4 linked regions of the Homo sapiens genome follow. The protein of the gene in region 2 interacts with the protein of the main gene of each other region in a pairwise test. Each region holds a gene or a part of one and is shown on either strand. Other genes may lie near its edges.

The links.
Region 1: the proteins of ZFYVE27 (region 2) and TMEM243 interact in binary tests that used the Homo sapiens proteins (3 or more experiments, as listed by UniProt).
Region 3: the proteins of ZFYVE27 (region 2) and ATL1 interact in binary tests that used the Homo sapiens proteins (3 or more experiments, as listed by UniProt).
Region 4: the proteins of ZFYVE27 (region 2) and REEP5 interact in binary tests that used the Homo sapiens proteins (3 or more experiments, as listed by UniProt).

The regions. Positions count from the first base shown.
Region 1 is NC_000007.14:87,195,733-87,202,759, forward strand, and holds the end of TMEM243 (transmembrane protein 243), read right to left. Parts: intron 7,023-7,027; exon of another isoform or gene 6,448-7,022; intron 5,495-6,447; exon of another isoform or gene 3,326-5,494; coding exon 3,275-3,325; exon of another isoform or gene 2,314-3,274; coding exon 2,209-2,313; coding exon of another isoform or gene 2,083-2,208; exon of another isoform or gene 1,950-2,082; intron 1,027-1,949; coding exon 904-1,026; 3' UTR 428-903; downstream 1-427.
Region 2 is NC_000010.11:97,733,046-97,740,151, forward strand, and holds the start of ZFYVE27 (protrudin), read left to right. Parts: upstream 1-4,082; 5' UTR 4,083-4,276; exon of another isoform or gene 4,277-4,280; intron 4,281-5,431; 5' UTR 5,432-5,432; coding exon 5,433-5,629; intron 5,630-7,106. UniProt on the Homo sapiens protein: Key regulator of RAB11-dependent vesicular trafficking during neurite extension through polarized membrane transport. Promotes axonal elongation and contributes to the establishment of neuronal cell polarity.
Region 3 is NC_000014.9:50,556,007-50,563,152, forward strand, and holds the start of ATL1 (atlastin-1), read left to right. Parts: upstream 1-4,138; 5' UTR 4,139-4,259; coding exon 4,260-4,293; intron 4,294-5,033; exon of another isoform or gene 5,034-5,120; intron 5,121-7,146.
Region 4 is NC_000005.10:112,898,218-112,905,244, forward strand, and holds part of REEP5 (receptor expression-enhancing protein 5), read right to left. Parts: intron 4,302-7,027; coding exon 4,163-4,301; intron 155-4,162; exon of another isoform or gene 1-154. UniProt on the Homo sapiens protein: Plays an essential role in heart function and development by regulating the organization and function of the sarcoplasmic reticulum in cardiomyocytes.

The sequences.
Region 1 (7,027 bases), on a different chromosome or scaffold from region 2:
AATTCACTACAGGTTTTTTGTTACTTTTAAAGGGAATATGGATAAGCATAGTAACAAAACCCACCAGAATCTAAGCAGTTTTCACCCCCTCAGAAACCACTGTCATTAGTTTACAAAGTTAGCACTTTGAAGTAAAACTAAATGAGGAAGGAAGTAATGTTACCTATCCTTGATACCATGACCATTTATTAGATGTTTTGCTATATAAATTACCGAGAGAATAGTTTGTCATCCACTTAGTGTGTTAGCTGGTGGGGTACAATATAACCTCTCATCTCAGGCTATTTTAAAAAAACAATATTTGCTTCTATAACAAAAGGAAACAAATCTAAGAATCATTCCTGTACTACAGAAGGGTTAAGGCAAAGGTAGCCTTTTGGGCTTTTTAATGAATATGACCCCTATAGAAAAGTCAAGAAAAAAAAACCCTTGTATAAATTATTTTATTTATTATTGTAATTAGATCTTCACAAAGTTGTCTTTTCACTGTGTTTTGTCAACGTGAAATTAAATTGTAGTTATAAGCAAAAGTTGGTTGCCTAGGGAACAATTGTATATTCAGTTTAACAGAAATAAAAGAATATTTGTCTTAAGATGCAAGATTTGTTTTTACATAGCCTTTTGCCATACAATTATAAAAATTTCATTTCAAAAGTGAAATTTTTTTGTGCTGTTTTAGCTTTAAGGGTTGGAATGTTTAGGTGCAACATCAGCTCCTTAAAGAAAAAGCAAAGTGATCTAGGATATGTCTCCCTTGCAAGAGGGAATTAACATTTACAATTAACATGAAAATCATGTATCAGACTTCTGCAGGAGATTCTTCAGCATACCTTATCCAAAAATTACTCACTGTCCTAATGTATCATTTTGAAGAGTCCTGGTAAGTACTTCTCCTTGGCAGCCTCACCTTCCCACATCATGGAAGTACAGGTTTGCACATATACACAACATGATGATAGAAAATATGATATAGTAAATTAGCTTTCTAAATTTCGGTTCTAAGTCTCCTTGTCGATACCAGTAGATCTAAAAGAAGAATTAAAGTTTATAAATTAAAATTTGAAATATAACATTTTCTCTACCAATTTCAAATTTCATTAGTATTTGTTTATTCCCCTAAATGAGACAGACATTCTCCATATTCTGAGGTCTCTACATTCCTGAGATCAGTACAGCCAGAATTTAATTCTTACTCTGAGTTTCCACATCCAAGATCATACTTATTCCTACTTTCTCAGTTTACTTTCCTCTATATTCACACCTGTATACTCCACCAGTCATCTGGCAAGCTATCCAAGAACATATACCTGGGCATACTACTTAACAGGAAAGGAAGACAACATTTAGACTCATGATTCATACAGTTGGTTCAGACCGTAAAATAGGGCTTCCATAATATATTTGGATTAAACTAGTTCATTGTCTGTTAGTCACTTTAGGCTTCAAGCTAGGGGAACAGGAAAGCTCCCAAAGTGGGATGGGCTAGTTCTTCTTCGGGTCATGGGAGTATATAGCAGGATCAGTGAATGAGAACACTTGGAGGTGTCTCCTGGTTTAATTAATTTTAACTCAGATAAGCAAATTACTATTGTTTTTTCTTTTGATTCTGCCTCTAAAGGAACATGAAACAATGTAGCCAACTAATGAATGAACACTGAGGAGCCACCACCATCTTTGTTTCTTCACCATAAAAGAAACATTTGCAGTAAATCAAACATTTTTACAACAACTGCAGCTTTAGATTTCCCAGGAGGTTTTGGTGTTAATACCTCCATTTTGGGAAACAAACATGTAGATTAAACTAATTTTGTAATAATTAGAATTAAATCCAGAGTGCTCTATCTCTTCCCTTAGCAGTAACTGGCATTTCCCAAAGACTGTTGGCCCTTACGTAGTCCTTGAGTGAAGATGAATTAAGTAAATTAAAATCTTTGGCCACCTACGTCTTTCCACTAATTTTTTTTTTTTTTTTTTTTTTTTTTTTAAGCTATCAAGGGAGTGGAATTTCTCTTTGGGGTTACAACTTTGGGATTTAGGAGAAAAGGAGAAGACTCAGATTTTATTGAGAATTCTAACATACTTTTAGGGGGAGGATGAGGATATAATTAAGAGATACCCTTTTGTATAGACCCAAGGCTGAAAATTTTTGTCCTGTGCATTGCAACTTAAACCCTCAAGAACACTGTTTAAATTCTCAACAGTACTTACAAGTATGCAGGCAGTAATACTACTCAAAGAGATGCAGACAGCAAAGAATATATTCAACGGTTTTGGAGGTAGTTGAGGGAAAACAAAAGCACTTATCAGCGTTACCTGTATGAAGAGAAATTATGTAAGGCCTTAACAGTAATTCCAAGACTTGGTAATTACCAACTGGAGTCTAGGCAACAGTACTACAAAATGCTTCATGTTATAAAATTACATCTGCCACCAAGTTTGCTTTCTAGAATGTTAATACAGTAATTATAAATATGTTCGAGTTATTTTAGTACTTCTTTTCTAAACTTTCCCTTACTTATGAAAGGAGAGAAAACATCAGTAATACTAGCTGATGCCAAAATAACTTCATTAACTAAACCTCACTCCCAGGATTAATGATTCTGCTGGTAAAAGTTCTAGCCATTTTGTTATTTTAAATATTTCTAGCAAAATGAATATAATCAAAGCTGGTTTTGCTATAACATTATGAAACACACTGAAAGACTTCTAATGTTGTATAGTTCTGTTTCTAACAGATGCAGCATTATATGCAATCTTTTCATTAAGAAGCCATGGAAAAAAATTCTCTTAAATTTAATGTGCCAGAAAAATGTCAAACTATGGAAAATACAGCTTTTAAAAATTTTATTGTAATAGCTCCCAGATGTATACTGTATACAGGATGTATACAGTACAACTACTATACACTGTGACCAAATCTTTTAAAACTTGACCAAAGGGTAATGGATATGTTCTTCAGGAACAAAATAGAAATGGGGAATTATGGTAGATGACAGAAGGAAGTGGCTACTAGCCACTGACATTTTTACAAATTTACTAGGCAAAACATGGTAAACTCAATTATCTTAAAACGAAGTTGTCTGACTTGTACCATTTCACATATTCAACCTGGGGGTGGGGCAGAATTAAATTAGCTACTCCAATTAGCAACTGCAATTTTGTGGTAATAAAATTAAAAGCACTTATTTAGCTTTTTTTGGAAAGTTAACCATAATTGATAAAGTTTTCAAAACTGGCTAAGAGCCTGGGTGAGGCACAAAATGAGGATACTTACTAGAATCAATAAGGATGTTAAGCTGCCAACAACTAAATTGATGATTCGATCCTGAAAGAGAAAAGAATTTTTAAGCCATATGACTTGGATCCATGTTACCTTCAGTATAGTACAATGCAAGGCATTTGGATGGTTTACTATAAAGAAACCCAAGATCCAGTCCTCTGAGCTTTACACATAAAACTACCAGACAAAGCAAAGTGTACTGAACCATAAGAGTGGAAAATGTACTTTGGGAAAATGGCCAACTGGGGAAGGTTTCTTGAAGGGACAGAACATTTATACTAGAGTCTTGATTGGGTAGTATCAAATGGGTAAGGGAGGCTTACAAATAATGCATGTGCTGCTGAGGATAGCATAAGCCAAAGGAGAAGGACAGGCACTGCAGGAATGGCCAGGCCAGAGCATTGGTTAAAGGTATCAGGAACCGGACTAGATGTAGAGTACCATGATGTGTCTGGAACTATATTTGTAATACAGCTTAGGTATCCTTGTCTAGTCTAAAAATAGATGCTACTGTTAAAAGGGATGGGTCCTAGAGTGCCAAGGCTTGGCACTTGCAATCTTAAGAGACCATCCAGTCCAGTAGTTTTTCCAAGTTATTTAATAGTGAAGGGCTTTAGTATATAAACAAAATATTGGTTGAATGAAGAACCTACCTACTGAGCTTTCTTGTCATTCCCATCCCACCCCAACCAACAAAGAATGTTTGAAAAACTGATCCAATCCTAATTTTACAGGTTAAACTAAATTTAGGCCCAGTGTGGTTAAATTATTTTCTAAGAGTCATAACAAGTTAGAAGCAATTTTGAAACCAGAGATTCCTAAATCCAGGTCACTGGTTAGAAGTAGTTTCAGGTACTACTAAAAAGGTAAAGTATGATAGTGACATGCAGTCTTATTTCTGAGAAGTCAAAGCTGAGTCTTTAACGAATCAGTCGTCTTAAATGTTGTTTTGATAATGGTCTGAGCAGAGAATGGCAGGATATGGAACATGCCGCCAATAAACAAAACCTCAGAGATGGGAAGGACACAGGAACAATCACAGAGCAGCAACCGAATTCTCATTTCCAAGTAGTCGCCTTTTAAGGATAAGAACCCACAGAAGTTAAGAGTCAGGCAAAATTGGGAGGGAAAGAGTAAGAAAGCCAAGTATTGGATGTGTGTGATCTAACCAAGGACAAATCACAACTCTCCAGACCAAGGCCACTGCAACTGAAAGGTTACAGAACAAAAGATACTGGACTCCAGCCACACCCTAACTCCAGAGGACTCAGAAGAGATCTTACCACGACCTCAGCTAGAGAAGCCTACACAGCACACAGGAGCCTGAACTTAGGACCACTTTGTTAGGAAAGGGACCCAGGGACAAGTCACCACTCACTTTAACTTCTTCCCACATGGGACAACATAAAATGTGTAGAGAGACAAAATCCATGGGAGCCCCACTATTTTTGAGAAGCAAGAATATCTGCTGCTCTCTGAGCGCCAGGGATTTCCAAAATGAAGCACTGCATACCTCATAACAGCTCCCACCAATAGAAGTCAAGCCAATATATCACTAATTGCCAAATGACACACAGCAAGTTGCCTACCAGGATCAAAGTAGGAGAAAAATAATGGTAAAAGGATATTAACTATGCCAAGCACATTCACCAATCCTCTCTTTAAAAATTCTAGGATGAAATGGTAATATGACTGTTTCACAGGTAGCAAAACAGGCTCAGGGAAACTGAGAACTTTCCCAAGATCTCAATACCATTAAGTGATAAAGACAAGATTCAGTGCCAGGCCTCCTTTCCCTATTTATGCTTCTCACCCAAAGAACAACCTAGAGTGCTAGTGCTGGTCTAGACAAAGATGTCAAGTGGCAGATGACACCTCAAAAAGCCTATTAGCAAAGTACTACACTGTGCTTACCTTTCAAGAATGATTTCCTCATGGGTGACTTTGTTCCACATTTTTGGATTTCTCCATATAACTGATTTTAATCATCCTGATGAAAATATATCTAAACTTTAATGAATACTTTCCTGCCTACCTTTTAGATAGTCACTGAACAGAATTCCAACAGATTTTCATGAATATCAGTTATTGTTATAATGTAGTGGTCCCCTCTGGGATTCCCAAGATGGGATGAACTATTTCGGACATGGCAGAAGTGTTTCTCAGAATATTTTCTTTCTCCAAGCCAAGGCCTTCTATCAACCATGAATTCAGGTATGCAGAGTTAACTTCAGAAGCCCTCCTACTTCTAATGCTCTCTGTTTTAAACTTGCTACTCAAAGTGTAGTCTATGAACCAGCACATCGGCCTCACCTGAGAGAACTGCAAGAAATGCAGAATCTTAGGCCTCACTGAGACCAACTGAATCAGAATCTGCGTTTTAACAGGATCTGGTAATTTATGTGCACATTTAAAATGGAGAGGCTGTGCTCTAAAGTTTAGTCTAAAATAAGCCATTTTTAAATATTAAGTTCAAATCACAGGGTACAGCTCCTTCCCTGGGCCTAGAGATTATTTTTCAGGGTTTTAGCAGCTCTTCTAGCTCCCAATCTCCAAAGAGGATAATAGAGAATAATTAAATAGCTAGTTAATTAACACTTCAAAGGACAGTTTGGGGAATAATATGCTCCAAATTGGAGCTAGAGTACATGGAGAAAAGTGAGTAATACATTTAAACTTTGCTGTTTATGGAGTAAATTGAAACTCATTATTTCTACTTCTACAGCTAGTCTCTATTAACTCAATTATTTCTCACAGAAACTAGCTCTGTCTCCTCCCCAGTTTTATTTTCACTCTAGTTCTACCTACCATAACTTGTCTCTCCTACCAGAATTTTAAACCTTGTACTGTGGCTTATTTTCACTCCACAAGGAAGCTTGACAGGACAAAGGATGGCAATTAGCCTGGATCCTTGCCTGCTGAGAGGACAGGATACAGATTTAGGATTTCCTTCCCAGAGACAAAATATTCTGCAACAGGTTTAGAGATAGTCTGAATTCATATATACATGAACATAAAGACAGACGTTGTGTGCATACATACATGTATATATATAGTTGAGATTTCACCTATATCATCTTGTAAGTCATATATTTATGCATTTAAACATTATCTACTATAATTCAGATGCAAATACAAAAGTGAATAAAAACATCTCTACCTTCCAGAAGTTTACACTATCCAGAGTTCAGGAGGGCACTAAGAAGACAGAAAGTGAGCTATCTTGGACAGTCAAGGAGAGACTACCAGAGAAGTCAAAACCCTGAGGAAGACTAGCAGATGAAAAGGAAAGGAAAGATGGTTCATGAAAGGAATTCCACAAAGACCCATGGGAGAACAAAAGCATTGCTGTTACAAAAAATCAATGGGACAAATGGAGATTGTTGACCAAGTTTCATGAGAGCTGAGAGGAAAAGAGCTGGAATGCAATGCACAGTGAAGAGCCTGGGCCTGACGGATTCATGTCTTTGTCTTCCTTTAGAATGAGGAAGGAGAAAAAGATGGAGATATATGCAACTGGTTTGTATCTGGAATGGTGGAAAGCAAGTAAGGAGTGTTATCTCTATTTACCAATGGGTAACTAGGTTCCAGAAGACTGACTTGCCAAAGGTCACACGGCTAGGTAATGGCAAAAAATCTCCTATCCAATGCTGTTCACAAAAGACAAGTGTAATGAACAGTTCAAAAGGTCTAACAGTCCTAAAACTAATAAATACAGACCTTAACACGGTCTAGAAACCAAGGTTC
Region 2 (7,106 bases):
CAGGCGTGAGCCACCGCGCCCGGCCTGATTTTTATATTTTTAGTAGAGACGGGGTTTCACCTTGTTGGCCAGGCTGGTCTCAAACTCTTGACCTCAGGTGATCTGCCCGCCTCAGCCTCTCAAAGTGCTGGGATTACACGTGTGAGCCACTGTGCCTGACCGGTACTTAGGTTATTAAAGAAAAAAATTTATTTTTCTTAAGAAGGGTGGGGACTCCTTAGCTTAAATACTACATTGTTGAACACAAAACTTTCCCCATCCTCTCACTTAGATTAAGTCTGCCTCTTCTCTCTGCTCCTACGGTTACAGTAGAATCCCCTGCTTTATATCATGGCTCAGTCAAGTCAGCGTCTTCTGTTGAACTAAGAGTTCATAGAGGGTAGAATTTCTGTCCAGTTCATTCTTGCTGGTTTCACAGTCATTGTTTTAAGAAATGATTCATGACCAGCCTGGGCAACATAGCAACACCTCATTCTACAAAAAAAAAAAAAAAAAAAAAATTGGCCAGGCACGGTAGCTCACACCTGTAATCCCAGCACTTTGGGAGGCTGAGGCAGGCAGATCACGAGCTCAAGAGATCGAGACCATCCTGGCCAACATGGTGAAACCCCGTCTCTACTAAAAATACAAAAATTAGCTGGGCGTGGTGGTGTGCACCTGTAGTCCCAGCTACTCGGGAGGCTGAGGCAGGAGAATCGCTTGAATCCGGGAGGCGGAGCTTGCAGTGAGCCAAGATCGTGCCACTGCACTCCAGCCTGATGACAGAGTGAGACTCCGTTTCAAAAAAAAATAAAAATAAAAATTAAGTAGCTAGGTGTTAGTGGTGTGCACCTGTAGTCCCAGCTCCTCTGGAGGCTGAGGCAGGAGGATTGTTTGAGCCCAGGAATTAGAGTGAGCTATGATTGCACCATTGCACTGCAGCCTGGGCAGCAGCAGAAGACCCTATCTCAAAAATAAAATAAAATTACATTAAAAAAGGAAAGAAAGATAAGAAAAAGAAAAAAGAAATGGGCATTGTTCTGGGGCTTTTGTTGAAAGAGATGTGAATTCTGTGCTCCAAGAGGAAACTGACACGCATGCGCTCATTCAAGGAACATTTGTTGGTACCTCCTTTGTGCTAGATGCTGGACACAGAAATTATAGGCAGTTCCCTCAGGACTCTCACTGTCTAGAGAGAGGAGGAGGCACCAAGTGCTGGGGTGGGGCAGGCCCACGGAGCCAAGTCAGAAGGGCACGTAATCCAGACAGTGGCTGCTGATGGGGAAGGTGTCAGAGAAGTCTTTCTTCAGGGGTGAGATCTGAGCTGAATTTTGGAGGAAGAATAAGAGCTGGCCAACTAAAGAATATGGGGCGCAGTGGCTCACGTCTGTAATCCCAGCGCTTTGGGAGGTCGAGGCAGGTGGATCACCTGAGGTAAGGAGTTTGAGACCAGTCTAGCCAACATGGTGAAACCCCATCTCTACTAAATACAAAAAATTAGCCAGGCATGGTGGTGCATGCCTGTAATTCCAGCTACTTAGGAGGCTGAGGCGGAAGAATCGCTTGAACCTGGGAGGCAAAAGTTGCAGTGAGCCAAGATTTCTCCATTGCACTCCAGCCTGCGCAACAAGAGCAAAACTCTATCTCAAAAAAAAAAAAAAAAAAAAGGTGAGAGTAGTCTGTAGAAAGGTACAGTAATGGGAGAAGGTGTGACATATCCGAGAACTGCCAGAGTTGAATACACCAGGCTTTGGTTTTATCCTGGAGGTCACAGGGGGCCACTGAAACTATCCACCAAGAGAGTGGTCTGAGAAAGGTACAGAGGGGTGGACAGGGTGGGGGATGGGAGTGGGTGGGGAGTGGCGATGGCCTATCCTGGAATTCAGACCTGAGGCCAGGTTAGGAAACGAAGAAGAGGGGCCTTCAGAGGCTATCTGCATGACAGACCCAGGAGCTTTCGGGGAAAAGACCCATCCTAAGGGAGGAGAGGCAGAGTCCAGCAGATGGGCCTGGACCACCACAAAGCTCAGTCCATTTCTCTAAGGGGTGGTGAGTGGATTTCTGTATATGGCTTAGTGATATGTGTGGGAATTGGATCTTTCTACATTTTGGCCTTTCGTGGATTCTTGTCTGATTTTTGGGCTAGGGGTGGTGGTGGTAGGGCTTTGAGTAAAAATAAAAATCACAATGATTGCTAACGATTTTTGAACACTTATAACATGTCAGGAATTTACATACTTTAGCTCATTTAATTCTCATCACAGCCCCACACTGAGGGTACCACTATGGTTATCCCCATTTTACAGCTGGAAAAACCAACCAAGCAATTCATCTGAGGAGAAGCCCTCCTACCTTACTTATGTTGGGACTGGCGCATGCCGGGTAATTGACAAAGTCAACTAAAGCAGGGAGCTTTGAGAAAAATACCTACACAGGGTAAGCATTTACTTTTGGGACAATCGTCAATTTATACATAGTTATAAGAACTAACACAGGGTGATCCCACAGACTACCCCCCAATGGTAACATCTTGCAACCCTTCTTAACAGAATGCCTACTATGTGCCAGGTACTGCTTTAGGTGCTGGAGACATAGACACGGGAAACGAAACATTAGCTGACAGAAGCCACAAGAGTGAATGAGATCCTCACGGAGTGCCTTGAGTCAGAAGAAAGAAGGGTAGCAAAAGGAGCCCCAGCATTTGAGGGGTAGGAAGAAAAGCCCTAAGGAGACCTTGAAGGTCGGAAAGAGAGGAGAGGGTGGTGTCATGGAAGCTAAGGTGGACAATGGTGCCAAAAAGGAAAGAGATTCCAGTGCTTCTGAGGTCATCTGCAAGGAGGACTGGGAAGTGTCCATTGGATTTAGCAGCCAGGATGTCACAGGTGAGCAGGCAGGTAGCCCAGAAATATGGAGGGGAGCAGGACCACAGTGCAGTGAGGAGTGAATTGGGCGAGGAAGCAGCGGTAGAGAGCACTTCACAGTGAGTCTTCCAACTCATGTAGGAAAGAGGGGGTAAAGTTAGGCTAAAGGAGAAATTTTCCATGAATTTTGTCTCTAGAATGATGATTAAGAGTTAGCGAGAGTCAAGATTTCAGGCCTGTTAGAGCAAAGCCCTAAGGAAATAAGAGTTGGACCCTGGAGCACAGCTAAGTCCTGGCTGGAGGGATGGGCCTGTCTTTCTGAAAGGAGATAATGGAGGAAGAGATGCAGTTAAAGCTCTGTGGCTACTTGAAGAGGGAAGTGATTACTTCCAGCTGGGGCACTCAAGGAAGGGATACAGACATTTGAGTGCCAGGGGCATTTGAGGGTAACAGTGGAGGGGTTCAGTTGGCCAAAGTTAAAGGCAGCTGAAAGATGGCAGGAGACAAGACCAGGAAATGCAGACCAAGGTGGGTGGTGGTATGGTTGGGGCGTTGGGGTCAGATGACACATAAGCTTCAAATTCCAGCTCCCATTTGCTTCTTAGCTGTGACTCTAAAGAAGTTCCTTAACACGTCTGAGATTCCCCATCTGTAAAATGGCGACAACCCTAATAGGGTCGTTGGAGGAGAACTAGATAATGTCTAAAAAGAGCTCAGTCCGGTTCAGTGCTTGGCTCCTCTGTACCTGAGCGCTAAGTCACTAATATAAAGCCATCGGATGTGTGCTTTAAGGGAAATTAACTGGGCCACACGGTGTGAAGTGAACTGAGCTGGGAGAGGCCTGCACAGGACCTTGTACACACTAGCTACTCCGGAAACAACTGCATGCTCTGCTGGGCATCTCATACAGGATACGGTGTCTTTCCGGGGCTCACACACAGTCCCCAGTTCAGTTCCAAAGTTGGAAGGAAAGAGGATGAAGACGTAAATTCTTCATTTAAGCCTCTCGCCAACTGTTCCCTGCGGCAAGGCAGGGCAACGAGCTGCAGGGTCGCCAAGCACGTGCTTCCAAGGGTCCTCAAGGCTTTGTGAACGGCGGCCGGCCAAGGACAGAATTAACTCCAGCCTGGAGCGCGCGGGAAAGACGCGCAGGCGCACTGCTGGCAAGGGTGCTTGCCTGTGCTGGGGTGGGCGGAGCTAAACCCGGAGCGGGATGACGTCATGAGGACGCAGCCGCAGAGCGATTCGCGTCCCGGAAGCGGCGGTGGCGGCCGCGGCGTAGGCGGAGGAGATTTTCGGACCTGCGACTTCCGAACAACCCTGGCAGGAGGAGCGGCGTTCAGCCGGGGGAGGCCTGAAGAAACGCTCCGGGGCCCAGTGGCTCTACCCCTGCTCCTGCCCGACCCTGCCGCCTCCCTCACGGAGCCAGCGGCCGGGTAGGTGAGGTGCCGTCCCCCCGCGTCCCAGTGTCTCCGCAGGCTGTGTGTAGTTGGGTGCTTGGGCGCAGCGGGGGCCGCCACATGCTGGCCCCACGACCTCGGGCATGGCCTTCCCTGTCCAGCCTCACGGGCTCCATCAGGCCCCCCTGGCTGCAGAGGTGTTGGCCAAGGCCAGTGCGGGCGTCGATATACCTCGCCCCTTCCTGGGCTCATACCTGGCGCCGCTCTGTGCCCTTTCGCCTTGGCTCGGCCTGCGGGGATTTCGGGGTCCCGTTGGCCCCTTTGTCCCATCCCCTCACCCTCCCATCAGGTCGCGGCTGATTGCCTGGGACTGGTTTATGTTGCTCTTCGCCGAGGTTCCGCCCCCTCGTTTGCTGCTTAGAGTTCAGGATAGGACTTTGAACTGGGAAAGACCGTAAAGGCTCCTCGGTTTCCTCATCAGAAAGGGCAGACGGGAATGGGGCGTTCTGATGCCGACTGCCCTGGGGCAGAGATGGCCCAGGAAGTTGTTGGGAACCGAAGGGAGTGGGAAGAGTTAGAGGATCGGGCGAGAGTCCTGGAGCACGGTATTTCATTCACTCATTCAGCAGGCATTTGTTAAGCACCCACTGTGTACAGAAGCAGTCGTGAATGGAGGCCAGTTAAGAGCAGGGAGTTTTACTTTGACGTGGTCAGTGCTCTGCACTTGATCTTAGCCACAAGGCCAAGAAGCGATGTGATGTGATAAGTGCTCTGTTAGGGTGAGTACGTGATCCTTTGGGAGCATCGGAGAGGGTCTCCCAGTCCAGAGTTGGGGGTGTTGGCAGAGACTTCCCAGAGTAAGGGAGTGATGTTTAAGCTGATACCTGAAGGATGAGTAGGAATTAACCAGGTAAAGAGTGGGAGAAAAATGTTCCAGGACATCATTTCATTTCAGCCCATGGGCTGCCTCGCTGCAGCGATCATTTATGCTTGGTTTTTATGATTTTTAGTTTTGATGGATCTTTGGGGAAAAGAGCATTGGATGGAGAGTACAAAGAACAGGATTTTAGGTCTGAATAGTTCACTTTCCCTTGCTCACAGGTTTACTGTTGGCACCACCTGAATCTGTAGGTAGAATTGTGTTGAGGACTAGACGTGCAATGCAAATGTTGGGAATTATTATGGTTACAGGATGCAGACATCAGAACGTGAGGGGAGTGGGCCGGAGCTGAGCCCCAGCGTGATGCCCGAGGCTCCCCTGGAGTCTCCACCTTTTCCTACCAAGTCCCCAGCGTTTGACCTTTTCAACTTGGTTCTCTCCTACAAGAGGCTGGAGATCTACCTGGAACCCTTGAAGGATGCAGGTGATGGTGTTCGATACTTGCTCAGGTACAGACTTTGTGGAGTTGCTCTGGTCTGCTCTGCCTTCTGCCGTCCTGCTCTGTAGTAACTAACACTGACCATTTAGGCAGTGGCTGGGCTGTCCTTTCTGCCCTAGTGAGGAGCAGTTCTGGGAGGTCTGTTCGGCCTCTGGGTTTATCTAGGCCTACCCTGTGTCTCAGGCCCAGCCCAGGAGAGGCAGATACTGGGAATGATCCTGCCTTTCAGCAAGGTTCTTCTTTGTGACTGAATAAGCTCCTTCCTCTGGACTGCTGGACAACCTTGAACATCACGCCTTCTACAGCTTAGAGCAGGCTTAATTTTTTCCTTTGCCCCCAATATTAGCATAATTAATATTAAAAAATTAGGGTATAATTTTGAACAAAAATTAAAGAAATACAAAAACCTGTGAATAAGCAGATACCATTTTCACTACTTTTTTTTTTTTTGAGACAGAATCTTGCTGTATTGTCCAGGCTGGAATGCAGTCGTGTGAACATGGCTCACTGTAGCCTCAGCCTCTTCAGCTCAAGCGATCCTCCTACCTCAGCCACCATGCCTGGCTAATTAAAAAAAAAAAAAAATTGTAGAGAGGCTCTCACTGTGTTGCCCAGGCTGGTCTTGAACTGTTGGGCTCAAGTGATCCTCCTGCCTCAGCCTCCCAAAGTGCTGGGATTACAGGTGTGAGCCACTGTGCCCAGCCCATTTTTACTAATTTATTGAGATTATGGATCTTAACTTTTTCCCTCCTATCCTGCTTTGATTTTCATTCTCTATAATTTTCATTTTTTCTTTTGACTCATTTTATTATGTTAAAATTATTTTAAATTACTTATATGGCATTCTACTCCCTAAATATGTCAGTTTTTATCTCTAAATAAGGACATTTCTTTCAAGATCAAAGTAACACCATACCTAACAAAATTAATAACTCCTTGATATCATCCTATACTCAGTTCATATTCCATTTCCTCAGTTGTACCATCTCTTTTGGCTAAATCACATTTCAGTCCAGGAGTGTGCATTGTTTGTACTTATTATGTCTTTTAAGTCTTTTTTCAGTCTAAGACAATCTCTCTCGTGACATTGATTTGCTGAAGAGACTGAGCCTGAACTGACTTTCCTGGAGAATTTACTACCGAGATTTGTCTGGTTTCTTCCTTGTGGTGCAGACTAGAAGTTAGATTTAAAGGTTGGATTTGATTGAAGTTAGAAAAGTGTTTTTTTTTTTTTTTGCAAAGGTAAATGTTGTGCCCCTGGTGTTGCATTGCATCAGGAGTCACACAAAAACCTGATTGTCCTAAAGAGCAGAGGTTTTTAACTTGGAGCCTATGGGTGAGTTTTAGGGATCAGTGAATCCCCTGAAACTGCATGTAAAATTATGTGTCTGCACATGTGTGTATTTCTAGGGAAAAGCTTCTGGTTTTCATCAGATTCTCATAAAGACCCTCAGTCCTCTGAAATACATGAGAGAGACTGGTAGGAA
Region 3 (7,146 bases), on a different chromosome or scaffold from region 2:
ATACAGGGGGAAGAGAATAGTTTGTGGAGTAACATCCCGGAAGAGTCAGGAAGAGAGAGGATTTAAAGTACTAAAGTTCAAATGGAGTAATACCTTTTCTTCTTTTATTCTGATTTAAAATGAACTTGACTTTTGACTTTTTAAAAACATTTGTATTTTAAAAACATAATTCACATACCATAAAATTCACCAACTTAGATTGTACAATTCAGTGGAGTTTTTTTGTTTTGTTTCATTTTTTGAGACAGGGTCTTGCTCTGTCATCCAGGCTGAAGTGCAGCGGCCTGAATCCTTGAACTCCTGGGCTCAAGGGATCCTCCCACCTCAGCCTCTTGAGTAGCTGGGACTGCAGGTGCACATCACTGCACCTGGCTAGTTTTTCTATTTTTTTTATAGAGATGGGGTCTTTGTATGTTGTACAGGCTGGTCTCGAACTCCTGGCCTCAAGTGATCCTCCCACCTCAGCTTCCCAAAGTGCTGGGATTACAGGCGTGAGCCACTGCACCCAGCCTAATCCAGTGGCTTTAGTATACCCAAGAGTTGTGCAAAGTTGATTTCATGATGAATTCTAAAACATTTTCATTGCCCCCAAAAGAAACCTCATACTCATTAGCAGTCACTCTCCAATTTCTCCCCAACCTCCCACTCCTTTCTTCCATCCCTAAGCAACAATTAATCTACTTTCTGCCTCTTTAGATTTGCCTATTCTATAAATTTCATATAAATGGAATCATATAATATGTGGTCTTTGTGGCTGGCTACTTTCATTTACTATAATGTTTTCAAGGTCCATCCATGTTGTACCATATATTGGTACTCAATAACTTTTTATGATCAAATAATGTTCTATTATATGGATATACTACATTTTGTTTATCCATTCACTAGTTATTTGGCACTGGGATTGTTTCCACCTTTTGGCTATTATGAATAATGCTGTTATGCATATTCCTGTACAAGTTTTTTTGTGGACATATATTGTAATTTCTTTAGGGTGTATATCTAGGAGTGCTAATGTATATGGCAATTCTATGTTTAACTTTTTGAGGAACTGCTAGACTTTTTCCCAAAGTATCTGCACCATTTTATATTTCCATCAGCAGTTTATGAGGGTGCCAATTTCTCCACATCTCACCAACACTTGTTATTATCTTTTTGATTATAGTCATCATAGTAAGCATTTTAAAACTTATTCTGGAGAATGTGAAACATTACTGTTCTAAGACTCAGAGTTATATAAAAGCATTACACTTAGAGAAATATCAGTCCCCTTAATCCCTACTACCCTCTTCCCATTCTTCCATTATTTCTACCCTATTCCCACCCATCTCCCGTAGGTGACCAATCTCATTGGTTTCTGGTTTAGTCTTGCTGTATTTATTTTTCACAGATGAATGGATACTTTTTTCATATCCTTTCCTTTTTCCAGGAATGGTATACTATTTTCACTTTTTCCTCCTCATTTAACATTGTATTCTGGAAATCACTCTGTATTAGCTTATAAAGATCTTCTGTATTCTTTTTCACACCTACATAACATTCTATTGCGTATATGTATTATAATGTATTCAACCACTCATCTATATGTGGGCATTCAGGTTGTTTCCAGCATTTTACAATAACAAAAAGTAATGTAATACATAACCATGTATGTTTATATTTTCATACTATTGAGGTATTTCTTCAGAGTAGATTAAACTTATGATTAAAAAGATGCATTCTAGCAATGTCCACTGAAAGGGTCTAGAAACAGTGATCTTCACCCAGCAATGAGCACAACTAGCACCCACGTCTTGGTTTCTAAACACCTTTTCTCGTTAAAAGGAGCCACAGCATCTTGGAGAAATGGCTATTCTAGTTCTAAGATAGGGAAAATACAAAGGAACCTGAAACATTTTCTTTTACCAGAATACAGGGAACTGCTCAAAGACAAAAAGGGACAATGTTAAAAGGACACACGAGCTGACCCTCAGCCAAATTAGGGGAATTTAGGCATTAAAAAGAATGGTGATGCATAGCACAATTTTTTTAAAAGCTTCCATTAATTTATAGAGGGACTCAACATAGAAAAGTGGGAGAGGGAATGCCAGCTACTTAATTTAAAAGACATGACATCAAGAGGCTGAGGTGGGCAGATCGCTTGAGCTCATGAGTTTGAGACCAGCCTGGGCAACATGGAGAAACCCCGTCTCTACATACAAAAACAGCCAGGCGTGCTGGCGACCGCCAGTAATCCCAGCTACTTGAGAGGCTGAGGCATGAGAATCGCTTGAACCTGGGAGGTGGAGGTTGTAGTGAGCTGAGATCACGCCACTGCACTCCGGCCTGGGCAACAGAGGGAGACTGTGTCTGGAAAACAAACAAACAACAGATAATGATTTTAAAGCCTCCATTTAAAAAATCACTAATATGAAATTGATTCAGGCAAGGATCAATGGATGCTAAAATCAGTGGATGAAAAGTTATTGGCCAATAGTACAAAAAGTCACATACAGAGAGCTATTTATTTAAGCATTTTTTTGTGATTCACACAGTCTCAAAGTATTCACCTGCAGATTACTTACTAATTATAAACACAACAGGTTTTTAAAAAATTAATTTCTTTTTCAATTGGGCATAGGTGTTGAATTATATAAATTTTTTCTTTTTTGTGTGTAATCTATTGTACTCTTAAAAATGGGATTCATATGAAAGGGATTTTCAGGCTGGAATGTAAGCTGAGAATGATAGTAAAGGAATATAAGAAGAAAAGCAGACCACACTTCTCTTTTGTTCTATGAACTTGGTTTATAGGTATAAGGATGAGATAATGTCTGTCTTCCTATGTTGTTTCATTAATGTCATTTCAACTCTGTTGAGCACAGACTTCTTTAAAACCATGTTGTAAACTTGGTTACAGTGTTCACGACTCTGCAGTCACTAGAACCAGTAACTGAAATATAATGCATAAGATTTGGCAGTGGTGGGGGAGTTTGTTTTCAGATATGTTGATGTTCAAATGTCAGTAGGAAAACAACGTGAGGATAACCTTAGGCAGTTATAAACACACCTCTGGTATAATGTCCTCTCTTCTAGAGGGCAGAAGACTACAAGTATAGATTTGGGAATCATCAGCATGGAGGTCCTGTCTGAAGCCATCATAGTAAATTACATTGAGAGAGTGTAGCGTGAGGAGTTGCTTACCATGAGGAATTAGCAGAGATCATGGATCTGGTAATTAAGAGGCTGGCAGTGATCTCCTAAGAACCGATCAGTACAGAGTGTGAGTAACAACCAAATGGCAGAAGGAAACTGTAAGGGACGGCATGATGGTATCTTGAGGTTGAGGTAGTATAAAGGGACAGTGTTTCCAGGTTACTGAAAACAACTAAGTTTGTAGCAGAGAGAAAGCAGTGAAAAGGGAAAGATTGAAAGTATTTTTATTTTTTTTCTTTTCCTTTCAAAATTGTCTGCAACCTTTATGGCTGCCAGGGCCCACCCATACCCAGACTATGTAGTATGATTTCAGCTCAAATAATTGCTATTGGACTATAGGTCTGGACCTTATCTTTGCAAATCTAGTGGGAAATTTTACCCAGTGGATATTGAGTTACAGATCGTAATGAATCTACAGCTTTCATTTATCTTGATCTTCTTGATATAAATTTTGCTATTCTAATTTTAAGACAAACTACTCAGTATACATATACAAAAATGCATGATACCCTCTTTACTAACATGACCTTGCTTTTAAAATGGAAAAAAAAATGGGTGCCTCGTAGATAAATGCACATTATTTTAGCTACTTTGGCTATATAAATGTTGCCAGCTTGTTTGTACTAATGTATAACCGTGCTTGAAACAGGTATTTGAACATCCAGAATCATGCAGTATATCGGTTTGTGTATTTCTGATAACGCTGTTAAATTCTTTGAGAGTGTGTTCGAGGGGGGTGCTGTTTATTTGTTTGTGTTTTCCGTTGAAAATGTTGCGGTACGTGGTCTATCACTGTCTTCACGGTCTGGGGGTGGACTGAGGTAGGGAGGGTGTGACGCTGGTATCTGTGTGAACTCGGGCTTGTGATGCTGAGCTTGGTTCATCTGCTTTCTCCTCCCTTTTCCTCCCCACTCCTTCCCACCAGCGCCACAGCAACATCCTCAGAGTCTGAGCGAACTGCGCCCAGCGCGGGCACGGAGCCTCCCACCGCCAGCAACCTGCGGCCCCGGAGAAGGCAGCGAGCGCAGTGACAGCGCCTCACCGCCACCAGCTCCTGGACCACCATGGCCAAGAACCGCAGGGACAGAAACAGTTGGGGTGAGTAGCAAATGAGAACTTCTGCAGCCTGCACGGGGTCTTCTGGCCCTCCACTTTCTGCTTCTGTGGAGACAGGGAGGGCCAAGGGCTGCTAGGTGCCTGCGTCCACGGCTGGGAGACGGGCCGTAGCCGAGCCGCTCCCTGTTTGGGCGGAGGAACCATGGCCGAGCGGTACCCGCGTCACCGAATCGCGCTGTCGGGGTGAGGGCTGCAGCTTCGCGCAGGCCGGGCCTCCAGCTCCTTCTTCCCCACCCCCCTCCCGCCTCCTCCCAGCATTTGGACAGCACCCACCAGGCGCCTCCGGGGACTTGTGGGTTCCGCCTTAGCGATCGGTTGGGAGGAAGGCTATGGGGGTGGGCAGGGGGCTGTTGTTACTCGGCCCCAGAGGGGCGAGGGGTCGGGGATCTAGAGCAGGCCAAGCCCCAACCCCCCTCCCCGGGAGCCGCCAACTCGCTGGCTCTGCAGGGCGCGGGCTCCCGGCGGCGGGCGGCGGGCGGCGCGCTGGAACAATGAGGCGGAGCGCGCCGGGTCCCGGACGGACGGTAGCAGACCGAGCAACTGGGAGAAGGGCCACCCTCTTGGGAATTCCTGAGCACTGCAGTACTCCTCTTAATTTGGGGGTTGGGTGGGGGAATTGGGGAAGAAGGAGAGCAAAGTTGTGGTTTCCAGCCTTCTGCCCCACCCCGACGTGGTACCCCATTCAGACCAGCCCCAAGGGTGGCTTTGTTCTTTGATTTTACCTTTTGGAGACATTGGGCTCATGATTCAGCACCAGGCCGAGGGGAGGGGAAAGGAGAGGCGAGACCCAGTATGTTCACACCGCGAGTGGGTGGGCGGTGCTCACGCAGGCGGAGAAGAACGGGCGCAGCGATGCGGAAGAAATCGCGGCCCCGCCCGCCTTGCTGCTCCAGACCTAGTTCTGGACGGTTAGTGTGGGCAGGCTGGGCGTCTTTTTGTCGTAGGTTCCCGATTTCTTGCAGTCACAGTGCTAAACTCACCAGCATCTTAGGAACGAAAGCCCTCTAAGGCATTTATTTTATTATCTGAACCAGAGAATGTCTCAGGCTACTGTGGCTTGGTGGGTAAATAAATATTTTGTTCATCAGCTTGTTATTTAGAAATTGTTATTTGGAAATAACAGTTGTTATTATTTGAAAAGTTCAGAGCTGCTTGATTCTGTTCCACATCTCAGTGAGAGCTCTTCTATAACTGTTTATTTGAGCGAGAGGCACAAATGTAAATTTTAATTGGTTATTTCAGTTTACTTTAATCAAAAGACCGTGTATCTCCTTGCCTCTGATTGTTCTAATGGTCACAGGATACGGTAGACAAGGTTTACATTTGGGAGATTATCCAAGGTTTGTGGTAGGCATGGAGAGTTGGAGCGGGGAGGTCTGTCATGACTTAGCTGAGTTTAAGAGAAAGTGGTTCCATTTTCTGAGATCATGAAACTTCAGTTTTAACAGACCTACCTGACTATTGCAATAAGTTTTATTTCCTTCTTCTGAAATTTAAGTAAGCATTTGCAGTGTATCCCCTTTCCACCCGTTCTCTTGGCCTCTAGAATAGGAATTTATTGAACACACACAATTAGGGTGCGTATATTCAAGTCACTTTTGGTCTCAGTCTCCATGAATTGTTGTCTCCACCCTGTTAACAGAAGCATGTGAAAATGTATTCTGAGGATTAAAATTTTTCTCCTTTATGAAGCTTTGGATCATTATTGCGCAGAATTTCCTTTGGCTATAAACTTTTTTTTTTTTGAGATGGAGTCTTGCTCTGTCGCCTAGGCTGGAGTGCAGTGGTGCCTTCTGGGCTCACTGCAAGCTCCACCTCCCGGGTTCACGCCATTCTCCTGCCTCAACCTCCCGAGCAGCTGGGACTACAGGCGCCTGCCACCGTGCCCGGCTAATTTTTTGTATTTTTAGTAGAGACAGAGTTTCACCATGTTAGCCAGGATGGTTTCGATCTCCTGACCTCGTGATCCGCCCGCCTCGGCCTCCCAAAGTGCTGGGATTACAGGAGCGAGCCACCATTCCCGGCCTTATAAACTTCTTATGTAGTGGGAGTTTTTCCCTCTTGGGAACATGGTTCTCACATCCGGTTTTCATAAAAATCACACAGGGACTTATTAGAAATGCAGACTCTCCCATCTTCCAGCCAGAGCTTTGGAATCAATAGATCTGAAAGAGGGCCTAGAAATCTGCCTTTTAATTAGCATTTTAGGTGATTGGGAAGCAGATGGTCTTTAGGTGTTACTTTGAGAAATACTACCTTAGATTATTTACATTTGATAGAAACATCTCAGATAGTTTACCCAGAAGTCATCAGGAAAGTTTCAACTCAAGTGATGGATTAGGAAAAGAAATACTAGAATCACTATAGTGTTTACTGGAAATTATTATAGAAAAGAAAGAGTGGAATTCTGGACTCTTATCTTGATGTTCTATGGAAATGCTTTACTACTTAGATTTTTCTTTGCTGTTAAGTACATATGACATAAATGACTTAGAAAATGTAGTAGATGGAGTAGGAGATAGAGGTTTTGGCACAGATATTAGCCCTGTCAGTCTTAATTCCATTTTATTACCAGTATCTAATAGAATGCCTAACACAGTAGGCATTTAGTAACAGCAATAGTAGCCAACATCGTTAAGCTAATGTCATATGAAATAGGTGCTGTAATACTCATTTTACATATTAAAAGGTAAAGCTAGTAGATGATTGACCCAGGATTCCTGCTCTGGCAGTTTGAATTCAGATTCCTTTATCTTCTATCTCTTTGTTGAATGGATAATACCTTCTGTATTATATTATAGAACTACAGTTTCAATGCATATTCATCTGCATTAT
Region 4 (7,027 bases), on a different chromosome or scaffold from region 2:
AGAGGCCTCTTCTCAGTCTGTTCACTAGGTCATTCAGAGTATGCCACTAATGTAGGAAGAAAGTATTTTGATTGACAGCATCATGAATGTTTAATCCTTTCAAGTATGTTATCTATTTGGAATGTATGCAATAAATTCACTTTCATGAACACTATGATGCCATGCAGCTGGAGACTACTAATGGATGCACATTCATTTTACCATTAGGGAAGAAAGTCTGCTACAAAGCAATATTTTAAATGAACTTCAAAACCAAATATAAATGATTCAGTGACTACCATTTATTTTGGATCTTCTCTCTACCTCTCTGTGAACTCCATTAGCAGAGGTGATTAGGAGTAGGCTAGAAGTCAAGCTTGCTCACATTTGGAAGTCTGAGGTCAGAACTACTGCAAGTAGTTCTGCTGACAAGATAGTGTTCACTGCCACAAGCAAGTGGGCCCAAAGCAAAAGCCAATTTCTTTCCACTAAAGACTACTGTGAGGTCCCTACGATTAGATGGATCTTATTAAGGGCTTTAAAATTATCTGAAGTTTAAATTATGTCATGTCCAAATTAAAGATTGTAAGAATATTTTTATAAATGTTAAATGACTTTGAATAATAAAAACAAAAAAATCCAATCTTTGAAATCAACTCTTTCCACAGACCAATTTTTATTTTCTTCCATCAGTTTTGAAAGGAAAATTCTTAATTGCCTTACAAGGCATTCTGTGGTGAAGTCATTCAAAAATATAAAAGAATCTATACTGAGCATGTTTTCATTTAATTTTTTAAACTTTAAAAGACACTCACTTCATATAGTGTCTTGTCTTTTTTCTTTTTTAACCATAAATGGTGTGATACTGTATTTAATGTTCTATTACTTTTTTTCTTTTTCGAGACAGGGTCTCACTCTGTCACCCAGGCTAGAGTGCAGTTGGGTGATCATTGCTTATTGTAGCCTTGAACTCCTGGGCTCAAACCATCCTCCCACCTCAGCCTCCTGAGCAGATGGGACCACAGGCATGCACCACCATGCCTGGCATTTGTTTTTTGGTTTTCGGTTTTTTTTTTTTTGGTCAACATGCTGTGATCTGGGAGCCTGGTTAATTTTTAAATTTGTGTGTGTGGAGACAGGGTCTCACCATGTTGCCCAGGATGGTGTCAAACTCCTGGCCTCAAGCAGTCCTTCTGCCTTGGCCTCCGAGTATGCTGGGATTACAGGCAAAAGCTAGCACAACTGTCCTGTATAACTTTTCATAATTACTAAATTATGCAAAAATTTCTGGGTCTGTACATATGGATCTATTTCATTCCATTTAACTGTATGGATATACTATTAATTGAATGAACCATTTACCTGCTGATGGACATTTCTGTTTATAATGTTTACATTATGCAGTTCATATTATATACAGTTGACAACAAAAAATGCTGCCATGAATATCTTTGTGCAGCTCTTTAATGCACAGTGACTATTTCCTTAGAATTGTTAAGAGTATCATTTTTCAATTCAACAAGAAATGGTTAAAAGGTCCCTTAAAAAGGTTATTCAAGTTTATACCACTAGGCTGTTAAGTATCCCTTATGTGAAATGCTTGGGACTAAAAGTGTTTCGGGTTTCACATTTATTCAGATTTTGGAATATGTACATTATACCAACTGAGCATACCAAATCAGAAACTCTAAAATCTAAATGCTCCAATGAGCATTTCCTTTGATCATTATGTGGGCACTCAAAAAGTTTGGGGTTTTAAAGCATTTAGGATTTCCAATTTCAGATGTTCAGCCTGTACCATTACATGTCCATTTCCCTATACATTCACCAATACCAGATATTTTCAATCTTTAAAATATCTGCCAGTTTAATGAACAAAATATGGGATTTCACTATTTTAACTCACACTTCCCACATCACTGGTGAGCTGTTTACTAGCCATTCATATTTTTTCTCTTCCGTGAAATACTTAACTTAGAACCTTTTCCCATTTTCTTTTTCTTTTTACTTATGGAAATTGTTATGTATTCTGGATATTCCTTATTTGGTGTAAATGTTGTAAATCTATCTTCCTAGTCTGTCATTATTTTAACTTTGTTTATGCTGCCCACTGTCATATAGAAATTTAATTTTTAGAAATTTTTAGTTGAATTTATCAAATCTTTTTCTTTGAAACTTTTGTATTTTGTCTTGCTTCTATACCTCAAAGTTAAAAAATATTGTCCTCTACTTTTTTCTAAAACAGAGGTTTTGGCATAAAAGTCCTGTCTTTGCAAATCACTCAGGAAAACAGGTGGACACTAACTAAAGGCAGTTACTTCCCTACCCCTCCTGCTCCAACCCCTAGAGCTGTGAACTATAACCCAGGATCACTTCCTTTTGATGCTGCTTTGCTGGGGTAGAAGGGGACTGTACAGTGAAGCTTTGACCTGAGGAGCTCTTCTGTAGGTGAAGAGTGGTTAACTATGGTTCCTGTGTGCCTGGGGCCCCCCACTCCTAGGACTCATCCACCCCCTACCCAGAACTTACTAGTACTAGCATGGACTGGGGCCCCCTCCATTCCAGTGCCTGATGGGATAGCTGATACTCATGGATGAAAAGCAGTTTGTAGGCTAAAATAAAAAGATATTTTAAGAATATATTTCTTTTTTTTTTTTTAGAGATGGAGTCTGGCTCTGTTGCCTAGGCTGGAGTGCAGTAGTGTGATCTCGGTTCACTGCAACCTCTGCATCCCAGATTCAAGCAGTTCTCCTGCCTCACCTCCTGAGTAGCTGGGACTACAGGTGCACTCTGCCACACCCAGCTAATTTCGTTTGTATTTTAGTAGAGACAGGGTTTCACCGTGTTGCCCAGGCTGGTCTCGAACTCCTGAGCTCAGGCCATCTGCCCGCCTCGGCCTCCCAAAGTGCTAGAATTGCAGGCATGAGCCACCACGCCTGGCCAAGAGTACATTTCAAAAGAAAAACAACACAATCAACTACAAGTTTTGGTCAGGAGCAACAATATTAGAACTGCTGACCAAGAATTTTAAACTGGGGAGCGGTAACCATACTAAAAGAAATGAGAAAATATTAGCAATATGAAACAAGGACAAGAAGAAGAGAGCCAAGCAAAAACATTAGGTGTGAACAATATAATAGTTGAAATGAAGAACACGGTATATAGCAGGAATAACAGAATGGTTATAATGTAATCATGGAGTACAGTTGAAAATTAGATGGTCAGATTGAGTCCGGGCACGGTGGCTCACGCCTGTAATCCCAGCACTTTGGGAGGCCGAGGTGGGTGGATTGCTTAAGGTCAGGAGTTCGAGAGCACCCTGGCCAACATGGTGAAACTCTTTCTCTACCAAAAAAAATACAAAAATTGACCAGGCGTGGTGGCACATGCCTGTAATCCCAGCTACTCGGGAGGCTGAGGCAGGACAATCACTTGAACCCAGGATGCGGAGGTTGCAGTGAGCGGAGATTGTACCATGGCACTCTAGCCTGGGCAACAGACCAAGAGTCCATCTCAGAAAAAAAAAAAAGGAGGTCAGATTGAGAAATCTCCCAGAAGAAGTACAAATAAATAGATTTTTAAAAAAACCAACCCTGTCTCTACTAAAAATACAAAAATTAGCCAAGCATGGTGGTGGGCGCCTGTAATCCCTGCTACTCAGGAGGCTGAGGCAGGAGAATTGCTTGAACCTGGGGGGTGGAGGTTGCAGTGAGCCAAGATCATGCCACTGCACTCTAGCCTGGGCGACGGAGCAAGACTCCATCTCAAAAAAAGAAAAAAAAAAAAAAAGGCTAAGACCAAAGACAAAAAGAATTATATATCCATAATTAACCAGAACTAAAACTCAAGATACTACCATTTATGATGGTGGTTGGAGTGATGGAGCTTCCTATATTTAATTTCCTATATCTAAATTTCTTTAGATAAAATTGTTTAAAAGAGTAGCCAGGTGCAGTGGTGTGCGCCTATGGTCCCAGCTACTCGGGAGGCTGAGGCAAGTGGCTTGCTTGAGCATTTTTTTGTTTTTGTTTTTTTTGAGACAGAGTCTCGCTCTGTTGCCCAGGCCTGTCTTCTTGTTTATAATCTGAGACAGAGCCACAGATGCACAACATTCAAGCATTTATTCCTACTTCTTCTATACAGGTACTGAGATGGAGTTTTAGTGGTAGCAAGACCAACATACCTTCAGCATGTAGTAGAAGGGGAACCATGACAGGAAGATATCAGAGAAGAATTCAGCAATGCTGAACACACCATACACTACCCAGTAGGTCAGCCACTGGGTATCATCTTCTTTGTTGGGACTCTCTATAGCTTTAATTCTGAAAGGCAGTACAAAAGAAAGTATATCATTTGGTAAGATATCAATGAAAGATTTTCAAATACACTTTCATAACCTGTCCTCTGATACCACTGAGAAACTTAGGCACATGTAGGCACTGTGTCACTAGATGCAAGAGTACAGCTTAAAGACTGGAAGCAATGTGGATATCGGGACAAGCCATTATAACCACTTGTTTCTAGTCTCCTGGTCACCAGAGAAACCAGCACCAGCTGTTACTGCCCTGGATCTCCACCCTGCCAAAGCCTCCCCACAAGTCCTAGAATATACCACTAGTGACTGGGAGCTAGAGCAATTTCCACTCCCAAGCTGGGTCCTGCCACGAGGGATATATCAGGAAGAATTCTCTCGTGATAACCAGGTTCTTATGTACTTTTAATAATTGAGATATATCATGGGTGAATAAGAATTTCCCATAAAGCAACATTTGGAACATAGGTTAGGTACTGCCCAAAATCCACAGCATATTTTATAGTAAACGGGTGAAAACAAACCTCATGGTGTCTATTTAGTTCAGAATGTCTTTAACTGATCCACAGGCTATGGACTTTCCTCCTCTCCTCAGTTAATAACAGGACTTTCCCAACCCTAACTATTGCTTAAACAAAATTCATTCTGCAAATGGATGGAAATACATTTAAAATAATTTTCTAAATCACAGAAATTTCCTTCAGTCCTAGGAATCTCATTATTCTAAACCTGAAGCTCCACAATTTCTTATCCTAACAGATCTAGATATTTATCGTAACTGAGCTGGACTGAAACAGTAAAATAAAAGAACTCTGAATCTTGTTTAGCCTATGAAACAGGTTAACTACTGAAAATACATTGACAGGGAGCTAAGCTATGAGGATGCAAAGGCATAAGATACAATGGACTATGGGGACTTTGGGGAAAGGGCTGGGGGTAGTGAGGGATAAAAGACTACACATTGGGTACAGTGTACCCTGCTCAGTTGATGGGTGCACCGAAATCTCAGAAATTGCCACTAAAAACTTATCCATGTAACCAAACGCCACCTGTTACCCAAAAACCTATTGAAATAAAAAATTTTCAAAAAGCAAATACATTGGCTACTCCATAACATCAGCTCCCCAAAGAGACAGTCAGGCTGCTAAATCATGCTCAGTCACTCACTAAGAAAGCCCTTGTACAGTTAATTAGAAGCAGCTATGTGTGTGAGTTTTAGAAAATAACCAAAAGGGGAAAAATTGTAGCTCAATGAGATGATTACTAATGAGGAAGACAGAGAGAGGAACAAGTAATAAGGTGAATGTTGCTTTGAACTTCAAGACTAGGCAAAATTTTTATTTTTTTGAGACAGGGTCTCTGCACAGGCTGGAGTGCAGTTGCACAATAATAGCTCACTGCAACCTCAAACTTCTGGGCTTATGTAATTCCCTTCACTTCAGCCTCCCAAGTAGCTGGTACTACAGGTACACACCACCACACCTAGCTACTTGCTAAATTTTTAGTAGAGACAAGGTCTCACTGTGTTGCCCAGGCTGGTCTCGAACTCCTGGCCTCAAGCAATCCTCCTGCCTTGGCCTCCCAAAGTGCAGTCTGGTGGCTCCCACACCCAGCCCCAAATATTTCAAAGTACAAGAATCATATAAAATGAATTTAAGAGAGCTGATTATTAAAAAATGGCTTGTAATGTATGCACAAAGTCTGTATTTTTTTAGCTTCCTTCAGATAGAAGCTGGCGAATGTAATAGAAGGCCAAAGGAAAAGTGTAGACAAGCATGTTAACCAAAGAACACAGTATATCCTTTATGTGTAAGATTTCTTCTCCCGCTGTGTTTCATTTGGTATAGTATGGCTTATCCATATTTAATTGGATTTATTTAATTATTAGTATAATAAAAATTTGTTTCCTGTACATTCATTCTGGGCAGAGGAGATACGTAATTACATTTCACTCAAGGTCTTAGTTTTGTGAACGCAATAGCTCACAACTATGTACTTCCAAAAGAAGCAACTCTCAGGACACACCTGGGAATTAAACAGTCTTTTCTAGAATATGACGTAAAAACCTCAAAATGTGATGGGACTGTCATTGTTAATCCAGTGGCTTTTAAATTCTTTTGGCCACAACCCTCGGTAAGCATACATTTTACATCATGATCCAGTAAACAGACATCTTCACATAAAAATATAAACTTAAATAGATATTTCCTGAAACCATTCTGATATTTTAAATTCCATTCTATTTCATTATTTTTTAAATGTTAGTCAAGTTCCACAGATTGAAAAACAGGAAGCCTAACAGTTCAGCTCTTCTAGGAAAAAAAAATTCTTTTTTAATTCATATCTACAATATGAATTCTAAAGTCCCCATGTTAATATACTAGAACACTATATAGTAACATTGAAAAGTAGAAATAAAAGAACTCCAAATTGAATACATACACTGATCACAACTTTGCAGAAAACCAAGGCATATGAAAGAAGCCAGGAAAAGGCCAATGAGTCTATTAAGCTAAAGAGATTTTTTAATAGATCTTCTCATATTATTGAAGCATTTAATTGTTTTAATTTAAAATAGCACAATGTTCAATTTAAAAAATGTCTTTATGTGTCATAACAATCACAAACTACCCAAAACAAGAAAAAAGGGAAGAGATGGTCTAGCTCACTCAGGAACGTGAGGTTCAAAAAAGTGAAGTGCCCCATGTAGTCATGGTGAGAGAAGAAAAAAGCTTA